2 linked regions of the Homo sapiens genome follow. The protein of the gene in region 1 interacts with the protein of each later gene in a biochemical or structural test. Each region holds a gene or a part of one and is shown on either strand. Other genes may lie near its edges.

The links.
Region 2: of the proteins of PRKCD (region 1) and GAP43, one has a biochemical effect on the other in vitro, tested with the Homo sapiens proteins (one study listed by IntAct).

Annotation. Positions count from the first base shown.
Region 1 is NC_000003.12:53,185,206-53,192,231, reverse strand, and holds part of PRKCD (protein kinase C delta type), read right to left. Parts: intron 6,629-7,026; coding exon 6,532-6,628; intron 6,306-6,531; coding exon 6,205-6,305; intron 6,066-6,204; coding exon 5,892-6,065; intron 5,629-5,891; coding exon 5,537-5,628; intron 4,893-5,536; coding exon 4,830-4,892; intron 3,513-4,829; coding exon 3,374-3,512; intron 3,175-3,373; coding exon 2,986-3,174; intron 2,360-2,985; coding exon 2,231-2,359; intron 125-2,230; coding exon 1-124.
Region 2 is NC_000003.12:115,675,487-115,682,512, forward strand, and holds part of GAP43 (neuromodulin), read left to right. Parts: intron 1-526; coding exon 527-1,124; intron 1,125-7,026. UniProt on the Homo sapiens protein: This protein is associated with nerve growth. It is a major component of the motile 'growth cones' that form the tips of elongating axons. Plays a role in axonal and dendritic filopodia induction.

The DNA.
Region 1 (7,026 bases):
CAAAGGAGAAGCCAGCGAATGCAGACTGGTCCATGGAGTCGATGAGGTTCTTGTCGCTGTAGGAGAGGCGCGCCTTCTCGTTCAGGAACTCCTGGTCAAAGTTACTGTAGTCTCTGGGTGACTTCTACAAGCAGAGGGCAGGGGTGAGCGAACAGGACCTAGGGAATGGCCCTCCAGACACCCCAGGCTGGAGTCCCTGCAGGGCTGGGCCAGGCCAGAGCTGTCCTCACCCAGAACAGAAGACAGAGCCTCCCCTAGCAGCCTGAAAGGAGCCCCATGGGAAGGAGGCTGCCATTTCCCCAAGAGGATGAGGAAAGTGACCAGGGAGCTCTGGGCCTGGGTTAGGAGAGGTGGTAGCCTCTTGCTCAGAGACCACCGAATCACAGCCCAGGGAGGCTCACTTACCACCTGTTTTTGTGGGGACCACAAGCTAAGAATGGCTTTCACATTTTTAAATGGTTGGAAAAAAAATCAAAAGAAAAATATTTCATGACATGAAAATTAGGTGAAATTCAAATTTCACTTTCCATAAATAAAGCTTTTGTAATACACAACCATGCCCATTTGTTGACATACTGTCTATGCCTGCTTTGAGACCATCAAGCCTGAAAAGCCTAAAATATATACTATCAGGCTGTTTACAGGAGAAATTTGCTGATTCTCTGCTCCTGAGGATATGATGGGATGGTAATATAGAAAGACCGCAAGCTGGTGGCCCTTCAGCCAAACTGAACTGGCAAGTACAATCATTTCGGCTTGTACTGGGTTTTAATGGAATTTGAACCTATATTTTATTTATTTATTTTTATTTATTTATTCATTTAGAGATGGAGTCTCACTCTCTTGCCCAGGCTGGAGTGCAGTGGCACGATCTCGGCTCACTGCAACCTCCACCTCCTGGGTTCAAGCGATTCTCCTGCCTCAGCCTCCTGAGTAGCTGGGATTACAGGTGTGCACCACCGTACCCGGCTAATTTTTTTTGTATTTTTTGTAGTAGAGACGGGGTTTCACCATGTTGGCCAGGCTGGTCTCGAACTCCTGACCTCAGGTGATCTGCCTGCCTCAGCCTCCCAAAGTGCTGGTGTGGGCCACTGTGCCCGGCCTGAACTTATATTTTAAAATTGAGCAATGCAACCTAAAAATCCAGATTTCCAGCTTCTTTTGAAAACTGGCAGATTAAAGCAGCCCTGGGCCCACTTCCTGCCCACTCTTGGTGCTAAGAGCCCCCTGGACAGCCCCTGCCCCACTGACAAGGGGTACATCACACCTGCTTTGTGTTTCTTAGTGCGGAGAAGGAAATCTATCAAAAGTGAGACTGAAAGCAGGCTGTGTGATTTTCTTGCAGCTGGCCTAGCCTGTCAGTTACATGCTCAGCCAGGACACGTCTGAGTTTGAGGTCCCTGGTGTAGGGGAAGTGCTCTGTAGCCTCAAAGCACAAATGTGGGGCGCATTACACAGGCTGCCCAGTGGGAACTGTGTGCCCTGGTGGAGGAGGGGAATCAAAGGACAGAAGGGGAGTGGGAAGGAAGAACTGTGGTCACAGAGGGGCCACACAGCCCCAAATTTCTTAGTGGCCCCACCTGCCTCTGCTCTCAGGCTGGTTCCTTGGTAGCCCTGTAGATTCTGGGCCTGTGAGTGAACCAGCCCCTCTTCCACCTGGAATGCCTCCCAGCTGTCCCTTGTCTCACTTCTTCCAACGGGGCCTCTCAGACCCACCCTCTTCTCTGCCACCTGGGTTCCTGCTGACAGACCCACTCAATAGCAACGGATCATGTGTCCTGGGGCATCTCTTATACTGTCATCTCGTATCACAAATTGTCATAGGTGTGCAAGTTTCTTATCTCTCCAACTAGCTGAGAGCTCCTCCGGTTCTGGGACTGCATCTCCCACTTTGCTGTGCAGCCCAGCACTGTGCTCTGCATTCAACAGGGACTCAGGATTCCCCATATGTATTGGAAAATGGATTGAATGGAGCGATAAAGTGAGGTCTTAACTCTATTTCCCAAAACAGGGTCCTCTGCATACAGTGGGATCCACAGTCCCCAGTGTGTGCTGAATGACTGAGTCAGGAGGGAGAGGATGAGAATACAAGGGCAGCGGCTGTGACTGAACATGCTATGGAGATTGCTGGAAGAAGGGAGAGGTGGAAAGCGTGTGAATGATGCAGGAGAGAGGGAGGGCAGGAGAGGAGTAGCTCAGCCTGAAGGCAGCACAGGGCAGGATCACATACCACTTTGGGCCTGAAAGGTGGCTCCAACCTCCGCTTTTCCAGCAGAGTCCAGTTTATGGTCTTGAAGAAGGGGTGGATTTTGATGTTTCCGGTCACTCCCAGCCTCTTGGTTGGTTCCCTTTCAAAGAGCTGCAACCCAGCAGGGACCCTGGTTAGCACCCAAGGGCCATGGGAAATTGGAGCTTCAGCAAATCCCCAGCAGGCCCAGGGATGCAAAGCCAGGCTTGCCCCAGCCCCAGTCAGCCTGGGGAACGGTGGGGCTGAGGGAGGCCACTCTGGCCTGCAGTGCTCCCAGCTCCCCCGGAGATGACAGGCTCTGGGCTGGACATCTGCGACTCTGCTGGTGGAACTTTTTATTATTTACTATCTGCCTGGCCCACAGCTGAGCATCATATGTTTCTATTTTCTTCCCAACAACTCTGTGAGTCAAGTCTGCTCATAGCCCCATTTTACAGATAAGGAGACAAACTCTGAGAGGTTAAGTGACCAGCTAGTCCCAGGCAGAGCCAGCATTTGGCCTCGGGTCTGTCTCCTGACCCTGGGCCCTTAGTCACCATGTCAGGCTGATTCTATGCACAGGACTCAGACAGGAGTTCCTGGGAACATGGTGAGAGAGCAATACCCCGTATGTTAGGACTGCAGCACCACTGAGGCTGCCATTCCAGAGACAGGAAGCTCCTCACCCAAAGCCCAGTGTCTGCCAGCCCCTGCCCCAGCCCAGCCCAGACCAGCCCAGCCCAGCCCAGGGCCTCCACCTTCTCCAGGATGTCCTTGGACTCCTTGGTGATCCAGCGGGGATAATGTGGCGTGTCCACACGGATGGACTCGAAGAGTTCATCCTCATCATCACCATGGAAGGGGGACTGGCCAATGAGCATCTCGTACAGAAGGACCCCGAAAGACCACCAGTCCACAGAGAATGTGTACTTCAGGCCCTGTAGGATCTGGCGGTGGGGAGAGCAGCAGGTCAGCAGGAGCTGAGGTGCTGAGGCTGAGAGGGGCCCCTGGGCACGAAGCCTAGCCAGGCCGCCTCAGCCTATGGGCTTTGGCTTGGACATCACTGCCCTTGGGAATCCTTCCCTGGCCCACCGTGGGGAGGCAAGGTGCCTGACTGAGCGGGGGGCTGGAAGGGTATCGGCTCACCTCAGGGGCGATATAGTCAGGGGTGCCGCAGAAGGTGCTGGCCCGGCTCTCCCCGAATATGTTCTCTTTGCACATCCCAAAGTCGGCAATCTTGATGTGGCCATCCCGGTCCAGCAGCACATTGTCCAGTTTGAGGTCCCTAAGGACAGGGGACAGGTAAGAGTCAGCAGGGGACATTTCTTCTCCTTCCAACCCTGCCCCCCATGTCCTAATTTTCAGCCGTATTAGTCCAGGACTGTCCCCAAGGGTACAAGGGAATGAGAAACAGAAAAGGAAGCAGAAGGAGAAAGAGATCCTAAAAACAGGTGCTTCTTGCAAGTCCCCTACTGTGTGCTAAACGCTGGGCATACACTGCCCTACTTCCTGAAGCCCAAATGGGGCTCAAACAGGTGATGTCACTCGCCCAGGGTCCCCTAGCAGTCAGCAGCAGAAGTGACCCCCAGGTTCAGGTTTGTCTACTTCCCACAGGCAGAGACCATGTCTATATTTAGTAATTAGTCATTTGAGTATATACTTAATGCATATGGGAACTAGAAATGGCAAACAGTACAAAGTCTACCTTCCACTGAGCTCAATCATGAGGCTCTCCTTAGAGCAATTCTAGGCGTGGACAAGCATATGGCAGCATGCAGCTCGCTCCCACCTTTTTTTTTTTTTTTTTTTTTTTTTTTGAGACACAGTCTCATTCTGTCACACAGGCTGGAGTGCAGTGGCATGATCTCAGCTCACTGCAACCTCCGCCTCCCGGGTTCAAGCAATTCTCCTGCCTCAGCCTCCTGAGTAGCTGAGATTACAGGCATCCACCACCATGCCCAGCTAACTTTTGTATTTTTTAGTAGAGACAGGGTTTCACCATGTTGGTCAGGCTGGTCTCGAACTCCTGACCTCGGGTGATCTGCCCACCTTGGCCTCCCAAAGTGCTGGGATTACAGGCGTGAGCCATCGCGCTCAGTCTCCCTCCCACGTTTTAAAGGCTGAATGCTAATATTCGATATACACTTTCCCACAGGTTGTTTTTCCACTTAACAACATATCTTGGCATTATCCCACATCAGTATACAGAGCCTGACCTCAGCCTTTTTGGTGGGTGTACAGTTCCCACCATAGGATGGAATCATAACTTATTAGATGAGACTTTATGGAAGGAGTCCCTTCTGGCAGAAGCTTAGATGACTCGATGGGGCTTCAGAGCGAGACTGACGGCTCCAAGGATGGGTGGGGCGATGGTGTCAAATATGAGCAGTGAGTTCCTAGTTCCTGAAGCTGAGCCAGCCTCAAATGGTGGCCACAGGAATGCTAACACCAGGGTGGGAGGCATAGGCAAATACCCAGCTAAAGATTGATTTCCAGCAGAGAAGGAACTGGAGTTGGGGGGATCCTGCTTGGAGCATTTCAGAAGATATGATGGGGCTGGAGCCTCCCCTCCCAAGAGCCCCCGCTGCCCTCACCCCCGCACCTGTAAATGATGCCCTTGCTGTGTAGAAACTGCAGTCCACACATTATCTCAGCGGCATAAAACCTGGGCAAGAGAGAGGGATAAAGTGTTCCGGGATCTCTGCCGAGCAGCCTCTGCTTCTCCTCGGGCCCTCAACCCCACTTCCAGGAGCAAGAAATGCTGCAAATAACTCCATGGACCACCTGAGCATGATCAAGTACATCTTGTATCAGGCAAGTGGGGGCTGGCAGCCCAGGCAGAAAGTTCTGAAGGGAAAGCTCTCAGTGAGCCAATTCTCTAAGAGTGTATGCATTTACATGCATGTACATATGTGTTTGCATGCATGCACACACACACACACACATACACGGTTAGTTTGGGGTAAGGGGCATGTGAATGGGGAGAAGCAGGTCTGGGGGCCACGCACCAGGGTCCTGTGTCCTGTGTCATGCAGGACCACCATTTGCAAGGCTGCCCTGGCTGTGGCCCACGGAGCGGCCAGGACCCAGAGTATTTGCGCTGCGCACCCAGCCGCAGTTCACTTGCCACCCATGGCTTCCTGTGTGGTGCCGACCCAGGCTACCCCCACATCTCCCCAGTTGCCGCTCTAGCCCAGGCTGGCTTTTCTAGGGAGAGGGAAGAAGGCATGGAGGGCAGACTGGAAGTGGGCTCTGAGCCAGTAGCCCTTCCTCCACACTGGGCCCTTCCCCACCATGGCCCTTACGTACGTGGCACGGTAGAGTTCAAAGCGGCCTTTGTCCTGGATGTGGTACATCAGGTCCCCCCCGTTGAGGAACTCCATCACAAAGAACAGGTGGTCCTGGGGTGGGAAGGGTGGTGAGCAGGGGTGAGGAATAGGCAGGAGGCTCCCTCACTGAGGGCCACTGGGGCCAAGCCCCAACAGGAAACAGCAGGGACAGGCCCTGGCTGAGGTGGACGACTCTGCCCTGGGAGGCATGAGGGGGGAAAGCATGGCCCTGCCTTAAGTGGCCTGAAGGGGAGACACAGCCCTGACTGAGGGGGGCTGAGGAGCTGTGGGACATGGCTGTGGCATGGGGTGGTGACGGCAGGAGGCCCGGGCACCTTGGTCTGGAAGGTGCAGATGAGGTGGGTGAGAAAGGGATTCTCTGCGGCAAGTGTCAGCACCCGCTTCTCAACCATGGTGCACTCCACGTCGTCGTCGATCAGGACCACATCCTTCTTGAGGGCCTTGATGGCAAAGTACTCTCCTCTGCCCTTCAGCTCTCCAAGCAGCACCTGATGGGGAGACACGGGTGCTGAGCAGGTGAGGACGGGGCAGGGGCCACAGCCCGATTCACAGACTCCCACCTCAGCCACCTAAGCGGGAAGAAGCCAGGGTGGGGTGGGAAGCAGGTGCCCGGCTCACAGCCCTCACCTTCCCGAAGCTGCCTTTGCCCAGGACCTTGTGGAAGATGAAGTTGTTGATGTTGCACTTGCTGCTGCCCTCCCAGATCTTGCCGTAGGTCCCACTGTTGTCTGCCCGAGAGATGGCACCTCCTCAGATCGGGGTCTCAGTCTACACAACTCCCCTCCCCCGGGGCCTGGGGTAGGCTGGGGGAAGGGGCCTCAGAGAGGAAGGGGCTCGCTCCCCAGGACCGGTGGTTCCTTCCATGTCTCACTTGACAATGGAAGGGAGGACAGTCCCCTTTCTTTGGCCTCAGGGGGAATAAAAACCGTAATGGGGCAATGGACCCAGCTTCACCTTGCATGTCCTCCCCAGCAACTCCGGTCTTCTTCTCGAAACCCTGATATATCCCAACAGGCTCTGAGGAGGCTGAGTCTGATCTCCGGGAGGCTCTCTGGGGAGGGAGCAGAGGTGGGGGGCCAGATGGTCAGACCATTATCAGAACTCCCAGCCCAGAAGGAAGACTCCCAGGTATAACTCCACCCTTAACACCAAGAGGAGACAACAGGGGCACAGCCCAGGCCCCCTACTCGGGCTGCGTGTACACACACGCACTCTTCCAGGAGCCCAGAGAAGCCTTGGTGGTCTGAAAGGCTCTGATTACAAACAGAAGTTTTGTAAACGGAACCCTACCTTCCCAACCACTCACTCGATAGATTTTATTTGACTATTTAGCTTCATTTCTGATTGATTCTAAAATTTTACCTTTAGGTTTTGTGGCATCCCTCAAGCCCCCCCCACATACAAACGTCCACACCCAAAGTCTTAGTTCAAAGTGTTCCAACACCCACT
Region 2 (7,026 bases), about 62 Mb from region 1:
TGCGGTGGCTCACGCCTGTAATTCCAGCACTTTGGGAGGTGGAGGTGGGCGGATCACTGAGGTCAGGAGTTTGAGACCAGCCTGAACAACATGATGAAACCCCGTCTCTACAAAATACAAAACTTAGTCGAGTGTAGTGGCACATGCCTGTAATCCCAGCTATTTGGGAGGTCAAGGCAGGAGAATTGCTTGAACCTGGGAGGCGGAGGTTGCCGTGAGCTGAGACCACGCCATTGTACTCCAGCCTGGGTGACAGACTGAGACTCTATCTCAAAAAAAAAAAAAAAAAAAAAAAAAAAAAATGGCCAGTGATTCTGGAAGGTCCGAAAGACATTACTTTTCCCATACAATACTGTGGGAGAAAGATGAGGTTTGATTTGAACTTCCAGGGTACTGTTGAATTCTTAACTCCAAAAACAGTGCCTGGCACAAAATAAATCACTTAATAAATACTTGTTGAATGCTGAGATTTAAAGGAGAAGAATGTCATTGAAGCCCTCTCTTTTCCCTTCTTTTCTCGACAAAGGTTGAAAAAAATGATGACGACCAAAAGATTGAACAAGATGGTATCAAACCAGAAGATAAAGCTCATAAGGCCGCAACCAAAATTCAGGCTAGCTTCCGTGGACACATAACAAGGAAAAAGCTCAAAGGAGAGAAGAAGGATGATGTCCAAGCTGCTGAGGCTGAAGCTAATAAGAAGGATGAAGCCCCTGTTGCCGATGGGGTGGAGAAGAAGGGAGAAGGCACCACTACTGCCGAAGCAGCCCCAGCCACTGGCTCCAAGCCTGATGAGCCCGGCAAAGCAGGAGAAACTCCTTCCGAGGAGAAGAAGGGGGAGGGTGATGCTGCCACAGAGCAGGCAGCCCCCCAGGCTCCTGCATCCTCAGAGGAGAAGGCCGGCTCAGCTGAGACAGAAAGTGCCACTAAAGCTTCCACTGATAACTCGCCGTCCTCCAAGGCTGAAGATGCCCCAGCCAAGGAGGAGCCTAAACAAGCCGATGTGCCTGCTGCTGTCACTGCTGCTGCTGCCACCACCCCTGCCGCAGAGGATGCTGCTGCCAAGGCAACAGCCCAGCCTCCAACGGAGACTGGGGAGAGCAGCCAAGCTGAAGAGAACATAGGTGAGCAACCGCGAGGGTCAGATGCAATGGGTGGATGGGGAAGGGAGTTGCTATTCGGAAGACCAGGCCACCTGGGTCATTGAGGGAGAGGAAAAAGTCTAGAAGATGTTTTCCAGAAATCAAGGGAAGCTGTGCTTAATTTCCCAAAGTGGCAGGACTAAGAGCTAAGGTTACATTCCCAAATATCTCCAGAGAGGACTACCAGAGAGGACTCAGGCAGGTCTATGTAGCAGCCAGTACTAGAAAGATCTGGCAATTACCTTAATTGGATTGATATATGCAGTCAAACTAGATAAATCTGCTTTAAAAAAGTATTCTGTGTGCTGATAGACTTAGTTTAATAAGTAATTACTGAGGCTACATATATTTTATGGATGGGAATTAGCTAATGTGATTATTTGGCTCTAGAAAATGCCTGGTATAAATACAGCCATCCTCTTCTTGATCCAGATTATATAGTGTGTGAATTGTTGGCAGCAAAAGTATAATCTCAGACCACCCTTCCCTATCTCACATTATGTTTCTGGGCATTCTCTCCACCATCGGTTGGTGAGTAGTGTGTGTATATGTGGGTATGCTCAGAGAATGTTAATTGTAACATTAATTGGGGTCAAACATAATTAGGAAAATAAGTCTGTCGATGTTGCCAAAAACAAAAGAAAAACCCCAAATACAGAATATGTTGTGAAGTCAAACATAAATAATCATTTTATTATTGAAGACACGACTTTCTACAATATGCATAAATAATTGAGGGTTCCTATGATTACAAAAAGGTACTGGATTCTCTTCATTTTGGAGCTGTAACTTGAAAGTTGGAGGGTTTTCACTATTACTGCTCAATTGTGCAGAATTGGAATAGAATATTCCCAGAGCAAGATAAATTCAACAGAGTTTCGTCCCTGGAGACTAGATCCTTCCCTCACCCCAACACATCCACAGTGGTAAAGGAGGCCAACAGTTTCCATGATCTTTCTCTAGTCTAATATGACCGATAAATACTTTCCAGCCCCAAAGATCCTCAAAGATAAAGTTTCTTCTGTGTCCATTTAAAAGATTGGGTTTACTCCTTTAGAAGCGCCTCGGTTTAACCAATGATGTTTGTCATCCAAGGGTCCAAATACGGACTGAACCACCGTGTGCTCCTTGGGAGAAAACCTACTCCATGAGAGTGGTCTGAGGAATGTTTTGGCATCTGACCATCAGATTGAGAAAGTAATGACTGGACTTTTACCTTGATATACATTTCCCCAAAATCAGATACTACAATATGGTAGGTGACTATTCTAGATATTTTAGGTCTACTTCTTTCATCGTATCCCTAAAATTCTATGAATATGATGCCAGATTATATTAATTAACATTGTTATTGGCATATTCCAGCTCTGGATAAATCGTATGCTTCTTTTCATTTTGAATCTTTATTCTAACACACAACTGTCCCAGGGGCCAGACATTGAGGTTTAGAAGATGGGAATTTTTCCCTGGAAAAGGTAAGGCATGTGATAAAAAGTGGGGTGTGGGTTTTAATTTACTCAGCAAAGCAAAACTTAACTACTTTTCTTTAGATTTAAGGTTTGAGCCTCAGGTATGATGTCTGGAAATCACTTTGCATATCCACAAGTTACTTAATGTGTCATTTTCATACATCTTAGAAATTAATCATGCTTTTAAATACAGAACATATCTGACATGGCACAGACCATATTTTTTAACTGGGATTTCTAAAGTTGTGGGAAACAGAGAAATGATGTGATTTTAGGTATATGCTTATGATTTGGGTTGATAGAAGGATTTTTTGAATCAGTAGGAAGTCTAATATATAATATATTTTAAAAGAAATTAAGTTTTATTATGTTTCAGGTTATGATAACTAACTGCAAATGAATTAATGAAATATTTTATGTAGTAAGTTGTCAACAAATGTCAAATATTGAATATAAATTGATGAAATTTAAATTATAGATAATAATTTGTTCACTCATTTATATATTTCTCTTGCATATTTGCTTATTCTATTCATTTATTTGATTAAAAATGTGTCTGGTCAGTGAAAGCAAACAGCACTCTTCTCTGCCTTAAATGTTACAGATTCTGACAGAAAAATATCTTAATTAATCAGACTTTATCATGGGCATTCAAAGGTGATTGAAACAATAGGTGAAGTTCAACTTGAAGGTAATCACAAAGGGCAATTTACAGTGTTTCTTAGAGTTGGGTAGGTACTGTCCTCTTGGTTAGATTCAGAAATGCTGCCTGTCGTTTCTTTCTGGGTTGAGGTATCTAGTAGCCTTGCCTGCTCTTATGTGACAAGCACAAATTACTCCGCTGTGATGAATCTCATGGGATCACAGAAGGTAGAGGTGACAAGGAGATCTATCACATCATATCAGGTCCAAATTCCCAGGTGCCCTGTACTGCATTTCCTCTGCCTTCCACTGTATTTCATTTTAACCTGGGTTAAAGTAGCAGCATCTTCCACTGGGCTGTACTGTTCGGAAATGGGTGGCTACCATGGGTTGCTTTAGGATTCTACAGCTGCCTGGAGGGGCGTGGACAGACAATCTAAGAGGGTGCAACAGGGTTAAGGGGAAAAATAGGTACAAAGAGAAAATCTAAGAAAATAATTTCTGTGAATATCAGGCTTAAAAATTTTAGATATGATTATTACTTTAATACCTATGGAAATGTTGGGGGAACTATAAATGTTATTTATTTTACTTCTTTTACTATTTACTACCAACCTGTTTGTTATGGGGGGATGTCATTTGTATTTTGATCTTTGAAGTTGGTTGGTTATTGTCATTGTTTTAAATTCTCCAAGTATGTCCACCTCTCCCTAGTTTGCCACGCTGCCTGCCCAGCTTTTTACGTGCCTGGGACCAAAACATTTCAGCGCACCTCTGACAATGATTCCTTTAGAGGAAGAGGAGTGTTCAAAACATCTGTGGGACACTGCCCCATTCAGTCATGAGTAGAGAACTTTGAAGCCCCCTTTAGTGATTATATCCTTGGGGTCTCCTGCTGAGCAGTGTCACTGTGCTCATTGGCTCTCAATGAAGGAATTCTCTCTTACGTCTCCTCTTCTCCATGGTAGCCTATTGATTTTCCCCAGTAGAGGACTCTGCTGTGGTCATATTCAGTGATGTGGTACAACCAAGGTAACCTATCCAGAGGGCTATCAATCAGTGATATTGATTGGGTGGCTGCCACAGGGTCTTTGACTGATGCTAGTTGGAAGTGTAGCTCTGAGTGACTTTAAATGTTCTGTATGTTGATCTTGGCTGCATTTTATTTTCATGGTCTCAGTACATCTTGCAAATTGATGCCATCAGTAATGATCAAGAAAAGAGGGAGGAGTTTCCTATTGCCATTCCCTGAATAGAAAAATTAACTTAGTGTCTCCCTGCTTCTCTTCCTCCTCTTTTTTATCCTTCCTTCCTCCCTCCTTCCTTCCCATTCTGTCTCCTTCTTTTCTATTCTTCCTTTCTTTTTCCCTTCCCTTTATATTAACTTTCTTCTGTGCTAGGTATTGGAGTCACAAAGATGAATAAGATATGATTTTTTGTCCAGGTGCGGTGGCTCATGCCTGTAATCCCAGCACTTTGGGAGACCGAGGCAGGAGGACTTGAGTCCAGGAGTTTGAGACCAGCCTGGGCAACAGAAGGAGACCCCATCTCTACAAATAATAAATAATTAGCAGAGTGTGGTGGTGTGTGCCTGAGGTCCCAGCCACTCTGGAGGTTGAGGCAGGAAGATCACCTGAGCCCGGGAGGTCAAGGCTGCAGTGAGCCATTATTGTGTGCCATTGTACTCCAGCCTGGGTGACAGAGTGAGACCCTGTCTCAGAAAAAGTAAACCAAACCAAAACAAAAACAAGATGTACTCTTTTGACCTTAATGAATTCTTACTTGGTATGGGGGTAGTATGAAATTCAGGGAATGACATTGAAAACAATCATATTCATAATCTCAATTAAATTCTGCAGTTAGGTACAGGGCACTTCCCTATGCCAATGCACTTTGGACAAAATATGAATGAGGCAGTGCTTCAGGGGCTAAGATGCAGTCTGCTGCTTACTATAAAAACGTTGCATATAATGTATGTCCTGATACTCAAATTATTAACGAAAAGAATAGATGCAAAATTTAGAATTTCTAGAATGATAATTGTGTATAAGAAAATGAAATACCCAGCTCATATTTCTGAATTTAAAAAATTATTTATGTTTCCCAGAACAATATTTTCCCTAAGACCCAAGGTAACCATCTATTTTTCAGCTTTCCAAAAGATAGGTCCACTTCTACCAAGCTGTGTGTTAGATGTGAGATTTTCCAAGGATATTTACACTTATTTGGCAGGGTGCCTCGTGAGCGGCTTTGATTTGAAATGTGGTTTCAACCACTTCCTAAATTTATACACAACTCACAAAGAATGAAAATTTTGGTTGTGGAAGTCCATAAATGCTGTTTATAAAACATGGGCACCCTGTCAGATACTCAGTGGTATACCTCTTAAATACTGTTGATTATTAAGCTTTTATGGAGCACTTTTATATTGCTAGAGTAATCATTTTTATTGGCTTTTCTTGACAACAGCCCAATGTCATTTGATAATATTTTTCTTTCTATTTTTATATTCCAAGAATAGGGACAAAGTAAATGGATATTCTGGCCACAAATACAGCCAGTGACAAAATGAGGATCAAACTGATTGAACTCTAAATCCTCACCTTAACTGTAGCCCTACAGTTCTTTCTCTCTATTAAGGTGTTATGTTTTGTCTCAGTTTCTGCATTTTCTTTTTTATCTTAGCTGTTGTTGTGATCTGATGCTTTTGGGAAATACCAACCAGGACCTTACTAGGATATTCTCTGTCCTACCTGCCTTGTAATATAATGCAGGGAAAAGATCTTTGAACTGAAATAAAGAGACCAGGGTTCTAGTCTCAGTATTTCTACCAACCAGATTTTAGGCAAGTTATTGCTTCTCTGGACCTCATTCATCTCATCCTTAGGAAAAGGGACTACGATAGTTGGTTTTTAAGGTTTTCTTTCAAGAGTTAACATATAAAAGTCTAATAATAGGTAGCACTTAATGAGCATTTATTAACTGCCAGGTCCTGTGCTGAGTGCTATGTGGGGATTGTTCCATTTAATCATCATAACCACTCTGTGGTAGTAATGTAGTAGTGTAATTTTCCCTTCCCTTTTTACAAGGAGAAATCTTAGCTTTAGGGAGACTATGGGACTTAATCATTGTTGACAGCTAGCAATGTTGAACCAGAAGCCAAACCCTGAGAGTCTGAGAGGTCACATGCTGAACCCTGACACTTATCCAAGTGCTATTCTGGAAGAAACAAAGAGGAGAGGAATGTCTAAGGACCCCAACAATGTGTTATAATATAAGAACATCTCTCTTCTTTGGATAATTGGATATTCCAGACTCTTGTCTGGGAATTATTAGGGATAGCATTTACAGATGGGTGTCTAGTAACTACTATAATTCCTGATCATAATTCCCTCACAGCCCTATCACCCCAGAATTATTAGGGATATTAAACTGTTTCTGAGTCTTAGATTCTTATTTCAAAAATGCTCCAAGTACTGTTTTATTAGACCTGAGAGAGCTATAAAGATCAGCTGAAAATGATTGTTCTTAACAGATGTATTACTGACTCCATCAAATACATCAGTTATGCCAGGAGGATCTGAAAACTAGAAATGGAAATTTTCATATCTCAATCAGATGAAAGTCATTTTATTTATTGTAGGCAATTGCTACCCTAAGTTTAGCTTATCAGAATCAGTATCTTTTTTATATTCTTGCTTAGGTCTACCCCCCTTTGGCAAGTGCATTTCCAAAGGATCTGGTACCTTTATAACTAAAATATTAAAGAACTT